Linked DNA regions of Homo sapiens. The protein of the gene in region 2 purifies or fractionates together with the protein of the main gene of each other region. This does not show direct contact. Each region holds a gene or a part of one and is shown on either strand. Other genes may lie near its edges.

The links.
Region 1: the proteins of DDX27 (region 2) and RBM19 purify together in Homo sapiens (affinity purification with mass spectrometry; 2 studies listed by BioGRID and IntAct, with this or other methods). This does not show direct contact.

The regions. Positions count from the first base shown.
Region 1 is NC_000012.12:113,826,651-113,830,559, forward strand, and holds part of RBM19 (probable RNA-binding protein 19), read right to left. Parts: intron 1-3,909. UniProt on the Homo sapiens protein: Plays a role in embryo pre-implantation development.
Region 2 is NC_000020.11:49,236,335-49,240,243, reverse strand, and holds part of DDX27 (probable ATP-dependent RNA helicase DDX27), read right to left. Parts: coding exon 3,734-3,909; intron 1,296-3,733; coding exon 1,189-1,295; intron 1,009-1,188; coding exon 906-1,008; intron 1-905. UniProt on the Homo sapiens protein: Probable ATP-dependent RNA helicase. Component of the nucleolar ribosomal RNA (rRNA) processing machinery that regulates 3' end formation of ribosomal 47S rRNA.

The DNA.
Region 1 (3,909 bases), on a different chromosome or scaffold from region 2:
TTGTGCCTCAATTTCTAACCTGTAAAATGGAAATACTAGGGGTTGTGGTGAGGCTGAAATGAGTAAAAAGGGCAATGCCCAGCCCCTGGCTCAGTCGATGGTGCTGAGACCAACACCTGTGTTACTATTATTGATAGGAAAGGTGTTGACTTCGTGTCTCTCTTGGTCTTTGGGGCAGTGAGCACTCATGGGGCGGGGGCTCTTACGCGGAGCCTGGCTTTGTGGCCTTGATGAACCAAAACATCTCATTCCTTTACCTGCCAACTATGTACTCATGTATCATAAGCCAGCCTCCGTGCTCCTGGGCCTGGCATATCTGCCAGGGTTCAGGCTGGGCCCCCAACTGCCCCCTGGAGGACATGTCAGGCCCCGAGTTCCCACCGAATGACACCCCGCACCTCCCGCTGGCCCTGCTTCCTTGAGGAGCACCCTGTTTGCAGCGAACAGCTGCTGAAATCCCACTTCCCCGACATCAAAAGCCTCAGTGGGTTTTCACCAAACAAACATAATGCAGAACCGGAGAAAGGTGTAAAATAAATAAACGAAACAAGCTGTGCATTTTCTTTCAGTATTACAGCTGCACCCGAAGATAAACAACAAGTGAATGTCACCAAACATCAATACCCGAGAAATTAACTTGACAAAAAGCTCAGCCATCCCCCGACAACCCCCCAGTCCTGCCCCCCTCCCCACCAACCTCCAACCACCATTTTTGCATTTCTGGAGTTCCCACCTAATGATTTTATTTTTCAATTAATTCCTTGACAGAATGCCAGCCTGTGTCTCTCCCTTCCCTGGCTGGCGCTGTCGGCCCTGCATGGGAGGCGCAGGCAGGCAGGGAGAAAGGCGCAGGCAGGGAGAAAGGGCGGGGGGGCGGGGGGGTGCGTCGGGAGGACAAGAGAAAGCGCTTCTTGGGGTTTTGTTCTGGAAGCAGACGTTGAGGAAAGGCAAGCCGGGGGAGAAGAGCGTGGCTGATAAGGGGAGAAGGGAGTTCTGAAAGGAACCCTGGGATGAGGCAGGCGTGAACAGTCCGGGGAGGGGAAAAGCACTGGGCCAGGAAGCCCAGGGCTGGATTCTGAGTGGAGAGGCCTGAGGTACAGGGTGGAGGGTGCTAGATGCAGGGTGCTGGGTGGGTGAGCTGCCAGGATCAAACCCTGCTGCTCCTGGCTGGGCAACCTTGGGTAAGTTGCTTCACCTCTCTGGGCTCCTCTCAGTTTCTGCAGTTACTGAATGGTGATGAAATCTACACGCCTAGGGTGTGTGAGGGTATTAAAAGAATGAATATATGTATGTAAGGCCCTCACAATAGTGCCTAGCACACGGCAAGCTGTCAATATAGGTTGGTCATTCTTACTGCTGTTGATGGAATCTGTTACTGAGAGCACGAGGGTGGGCTGCTCCCCTCCTCTATAACACGATGATAGCAACAGCAGCTCTCGACTCTGTCTCAAAAAAAAAAAAAAAAAAAAAAGTGACCAATGGGATGGAGCAGGGCCTCCCACTGTGGGCCCACAGAAGAGTGTCTGGATTTGCTGACATGATTTGCCATGAATACAGAAATCAGTGACTAATGTTCAAAAACAGGGAGATGCTACATAAGAATCTGCACCTCTCGTTTCTCTTGAACCTGGAATGGCTAACCTGTGAGTGTGGCAGACCTGTCCCCTCCCTGCCTACAGGTAACTGATGAGGCTGTGCACTAGCTGCCCCTGGAGACACGCAGCCTCACTTATGGGGGCTTTTCTTCCTGTTCCTGGAGGCTCCTGAGTTGCTACTTCCCGAGACACAGGATAGGCAAGGCTTCCACAAACTCCGCTAAGTCGGAGACAGAACTGATTCCAAGAGGCCGGGGTGAAGGGCAGGGGGCGGGGGCACAGGTGGGCGAGGGGAGGAAGGAGGTTGGGGCAGAGTGTGGAGGCCAGAATGAGGCTCCACAATCTTCAGACTCAGTGGTGTGCAGTCCTAGGCTGCTGGGGGACACCAGCCACCTGTAGCTCCCACCCTTGGGGAGTATGAGGGTGCCATGATGTGGGTACCGCAGGGGGGCTGGGCACCCGGGGGCTGGCCTGGCTTGGGAGGCTGCCTGCTCTGGAAGGCTGGCTGAACCAGACCCCCACCCTCAGCTGCTGGTGCCTCTGCATGGGTCTCTCCCTGTCCTCCCTGGCTTCATATCTTGCAGCCCCCACGGGCAGAGCTCTCCTACCCAGATAGGTCTGCATCTCAGGGCTCTGTGTACAGCAGGCACACATCAGGTACGCACAGAATAAAGGGTACTCTTCAGGAGACTGGCCTGGCTCCTAAGACCAAGCCAATGTCCCTTTATTGATACAGGAGGCTGTTTTAGGGCTGTGCCTTTTTTTTTTTTTAAATAGACAGAATCACACTGTCACCCAGGTGAGTGCAGTGGAGCGATCTCGGCTCACTGCAACCTCTGCTTTCCGGGTTTGAGTGATTCTTGTGCCTCAGCCTCCCAAGTAGCTGGGATTACAGGCGTACACCACCAGGCCCAACTAATTTTTGTATTTTTAGTAGAAATGAGATTTCACCATGTTGGACATGAGCTCAAGTGATCCACCCGCCTTGGCCTCCTAACGTGCTGGGATTATAGGCATGAGCCACTACGTCCAGCCAGTTGTGCCTTTTTAAAACACAGCGAGTCCTTCTAAGAACTAGGTATGATCTGAGAGGGTCCTTGTGCAGAGCGGGTGGGCAGGAGCCTGGGCCGCAGACTGGCCTCTGCCACTGTGGGACTCCCAGGAGCTGCTAAGCTCCTTACCTCAGTGTTCCCACCTGTTAAACGGGGACGGTGCCTGCTCTGCTTATCTCATGGGGACCGTAAGGATTCCTGCCTTCAGTCACTCTTAGCAAGCATGACCCAGCATATTCTATGTGCCAGGAATGATGCTGGGGATATGGCAGTGAACAAAACTCCACAGGATAAACTAAACCACCAGCCATGGGGGCCACACTGGGGCTCAGGGTGGACAGGACGAGGTGGGACCTGAGTGCTGCCACTTGGTGGTCCCAGCCTTCTCTGAGTTACCAAAGTTACTCTTCTGCAGACAGGACACAGTAGTAGCACCCACCACAGGGGATTTGATGAGATAAAGCATGAGAGCACTTAGCCCAGGGCCCGGCCCGTTGAGGTGCCAGGCAAACATGAAAGCTAACAATCAAAGGGTCCTGTGAGGCCACCCCAGAGGACAGGCAGTGCCCAGCAAAGGGGAAATCCAGCTGCCCAAGATAAGGCCAAGGGGCGAGCTGCAGGGACCACTCCTCAGGCGCCTGCTGGCTCTAAGCAGCAGGCTGGCTCTGGACTTTCCTACAGAAATTCCACCAGCTAGGCAACATCATTGTCCCACTTTTCAGATGAGGAAGCAGCCGCACTAGGACTCTGAAGAGTCAAGTGGTCACACTTTCCAAGCAGGACCTTGAGCTCAGATAGGGTTGGCTCCAGCCTTACTGGCACAGCATAGCAAAGCCTGCCCCGCAGAGGGGGACACTAGCCCAGCCTCCCTAGGATGGGGGTCTCAACAGGAAAAGCATGAACAGACCCAGGCTATGTAGCAGCAATTTCCTTTTCAAAGGCCATTGGTTCTCAATCCAGCTGTCTGGTAGCATCAGCTAGGAACCCACTGATGCCTGGATCCTACCTCCAGAGGTTCTGATGCAAATGGCCTGGGGTGAGCACGGGATATGATGACTGCTATGATGACTGATGTTATTAATCTTGGTGCTGAGGACCTGGGCTCCCTGAGTGGCTGGAGAGTGGGTCGGTGGGTGGAGTAACTTCCCTCTGTGCTCTGGGTGTCTTGTGTGTGTGCAGAATTCTATGACTGGCCACGCACAACCCCATACACAGGGGCTGGTGAAGGTGCTGCAGCCCTGATACCCATGGAGTTACCCTGA
Region 2 (3,909 bases):
ATATAAAACAAAGGCTGCCATTTTACCCAATCTTAAGTATACAATTCAGTGGCATTACTTACATTCACAACATTGTACAACCATCACCACTATCTGTTTCCAAAACTCCTATCAGGAGGCTACTCACTGACATCATTGAAAACAGAAGCTCTGCAACCACTAATAATTTCCTATAACCCCCCTTCCCCTAGCCCTAAGTAATCTATAATCTATTTCTGTCTCTGTGAATTTGCCTAGCTAGATATCTCAGGTAAGTGAAATCAGACAGTATTTGTCCCTTTGTGTCTGGATTATTTCATTCAGCTTAAGATTTTCAAGGTTCATCCTTATGGCATGTATCAGAACTTCATGGCTGAATAATATTCCATTGTGTGTATATAAACACACACCCCAAATTTTGTTTATCCATTCACTTGTTGATGAACATAGTTTGTTTCCACCTTTTTGCTATTATGAACAGTAATTCAAAGAGCACTGGCATCTAAGTATCTGTTTGAGTCCCTGTTTACATCCTTTACAACAGTGGTCCCCAACCCCAGGCTGCATACCGGTTCCAGTCCATGGCGTATTAGGAACCAGGCTGCACAGCAGGACGTGAGCATTGGGCAACCAAGCATTGCCACCTGTGCTTGGCCTCCTGTCAGATCAGCAGCAGCATTAGATTCTCATAAGAGCACTAACCCTATTGTGAAGTGCGCATGCGAGGGATCTAGGGTGTGCACTCCTTATGAGAATCTAATGCAACCCCCACACCCCAAATGTGGAAACATTGTCTTCCACGATACTGGTCCTTGGTGCCGAAAGGTTGGGGACCGCTGCTTTACAGTATAGAACTAGGAAATGGAACTGCTGAGTCCTGTGGGGTAATTCTGTATTTAGATTTCTGCGGAACCTCCCTGACTTACTTTTCTCCTTCTTCCTCTCTTCTTTGGTCTGGAACCAGCTCCTCTCGGGCTCTTGGACCACTGCCTCCTTCCCCTTCTCCAGGAGCCGCTTTGCTGTATTGATCTGTAGAGATAACAAAAGGATGCCTGCCGTGAAACCCGTATCTACTAACACAGGAAGCCACGGGCTGCAAATGCCTGGGGCTCTGATGGGAGAAACATTTCAGAAGGGCAGCACCAGCAGGGATGCAGCAGCTTGCTTACTGAGCAGCCTTGTGAACAAGATCCCGCCTCGCAGCCTCACCTGGGCTTCTGACTGCTGCATCTCTTTTTCCTCCGCCTCTAGCTGCAGAACTGCATACACATCTTTCTCCATTTTCTCAATCTTGTCCCGGAATTTGAGGATGACATCTCAATGGGAGAAAATAAAAAGGATTTACAAATAAGGGTAGGCCAGGCATGGTGGCTCACACCTGTAACCCGGCACTCTGGGAGATTGAGGTGGGAGGATTGCTTGAGCCCAGGAATTTGAGGCCAGCCTGGGCAACGTGGCCAGACTCTGTCTCTACAAAAAAAAAAAAAAAAAAAAAAAAAGCCAGGCACAGTGGCTCATGCCTGTAATCCCACGCTTTGGGAGGCCAAGGCAGGTGGATCACCTGAGGTCAGGAGTTTGAGACCAGCTTGGCCAATGCTGTGAAACCCCGTCTCTATTAAAAATACAAAAATCAGCTGGGTGTGGGGGCACACGCCTGTAATCCCAGCTACTACTCAGAAGGCTGAGGCAGGAGAACTGCTTGAACCCACGAGGCGGAGGCTGCAGTAAGCCAAGATGACACCACTACACTCCAGCCTGGGCAAAAGAGCGAGACTCCATCTAAAAAAAAAAAAAAAATTAGCCATCATGGTGGCACACACCTGTAGTCCCACCTACTCAGGAGGCTGAGGAGAAGAACTGCTTGAACCCAGGAGTTCGAGGCAACAGTAAGCTATGATCGCACCCCTGTACCCCAGCCTGGGCAACAAAGCAAGACCTTATCTTAAACAAAATAAGGCAGTGGCTCAAGCCTGTAATCCCAGCACTTTGGGAGGCCAAGGCGGGTGGATCACGAGGTCAAGAGATCGAGACCATCCTGGACAACATGGTGAAACCCCACCTGTACTAAAAATATAAAAATTAGCTGGGCGTGGTGGCATGCACCTGTAGTCCCAGCTACTTGGGAGGCTGAGGCAGGAGGATCACTTGAACCCGGGACGCAGAGGTTGCAATGGGCCGAGATCGCACCACTGCACTCCAGCCTGGCAACAGAGCAAGACTCCATCTCAAAAATAAATTAAATAAAATAAAATAAGGGTGACTACTAATACTGTGTAACTGATGAAAATAATTTAGCTGTGCATTTACTGACATAGGAAATGGTGTCTGTAATGTGTGCCTTCTCTGCTTCATATCCCCCAGACTCAGAGTGGCCCCTGCCTACCGCTCTGATCTTCTGTGTGTCCCTGCTCACCACGCCTGAGCCTCCTGACCTTTCTCTTGTTCTCACACACTAAGCTCGTTCCTACCTCACAGCCTCCACCCTTGTTCTCTCAGCTCAGCACTTTGCCCTCAGACCTCTCATGGCTGCCTCATTCCGATCACCCAGGACTCAGCTCCAATGCCAGCTGTGCAGAGGCCTTTCCTTAACAGCTTAATGAGGCAGTCTCCTCCTGCTGTTCTCAATCACATCTACTGTTAGCTTATTTATTGTCTCTTTCTCCCAGAACCACAGCTCTGCTTTGTTCCCTGCTGTATCCCCAGCACCTAGAACAGAATCAATAGCACTAGGCCCACAGCAGGACTCAATAACTAGTCGCTGATTAAATGAAGACAATGAAAATGAAAAAAATAAAAGGGACATTTAAGAAAGGAAAAATGGTTTGAAAAGACATACACCTAAATGCTACCAGTGGTGAGCTCTTTGACACAGAATTACATTTTTTTTTATTTACTAATTTCCAACAATAAATACGTACTTTTCATTTCATTTTTTAGAGACAGGGTCTTGCACTTTTGCCCAGGCTGCAGTGCAGTGGCACAATCATAGCTCACTGCAGCCTCAACCTCCTGGATTTAAGAGATCTCCTGCCTCAGCCTTCTGAATAGCTGGGACTACAGGCACACACCACCATGCCCAGCTAATTTTTTTTTTTTAGAGACAGGCAGCTCACTATATTGCTCAGGTTGGTCTTGAACTCCTGGCCTCTAGCAATCCTCCTGCCTTGGCCTCCCAAAGTGCTGGGTTATAGGCAAGAGCTACCATGCTCAGGCTAAATATGTATTATTTTTATAACTTTAAAAATTTTTAAGGCTGGGCATGGTGGCTCATTACTGTTAATCCCGGCACTTTGGGAGGCAGAAGGTGGGTGGATTGCTTGAGCCTAGGAATTCAAGAACAAAACAAAACAAAAAAAGACTTTAAAGAGGATGTGCTTTATAAGACCCCCACAGATCAGAGGAACAAAATCAATGAAAGGACCCAAAAAGAATGAGTACTGATCTCTCTCTTCCCCACCACCAACAGTAAGGGAAAGAGGAGTTTAGTGAGAATTTTGCCCCAAGCAACCTTCTCTTCTCAATTTCCACCTAAATGGGGCACTGTGTTTACAATTCTGTCATAATTCCCTTCTACACACAGGAGGCAAGCTCAGAGAGGTGAGGTGAAACCTGCACATGGTCACTCGGCAAGGAAGCAGCAGGGCTGGAATTCAAATCTGGCTCTGAACTGCAAAGTACCTGCTCTCAGCCATTACACTCTGTCCTTGCCCCGCCCACCGAGCCATTCTGCACTGCCACAGGGGTGCCTGCTCACCTTGGGGAAGTATCCTGGCCTTCACAGGGGCCTTGGCAGCTTTTACAATCTCCTTCAGCATCTTCCGCTCATCTTCTCCCACCAGAGAGACTGAGCGCCCAGCCCTGCCAGCACGTGCTGTTCGCCCCACCCGGTGGACATAATGTTTGATGGTATTAGGCATTGTGAAGTTGATT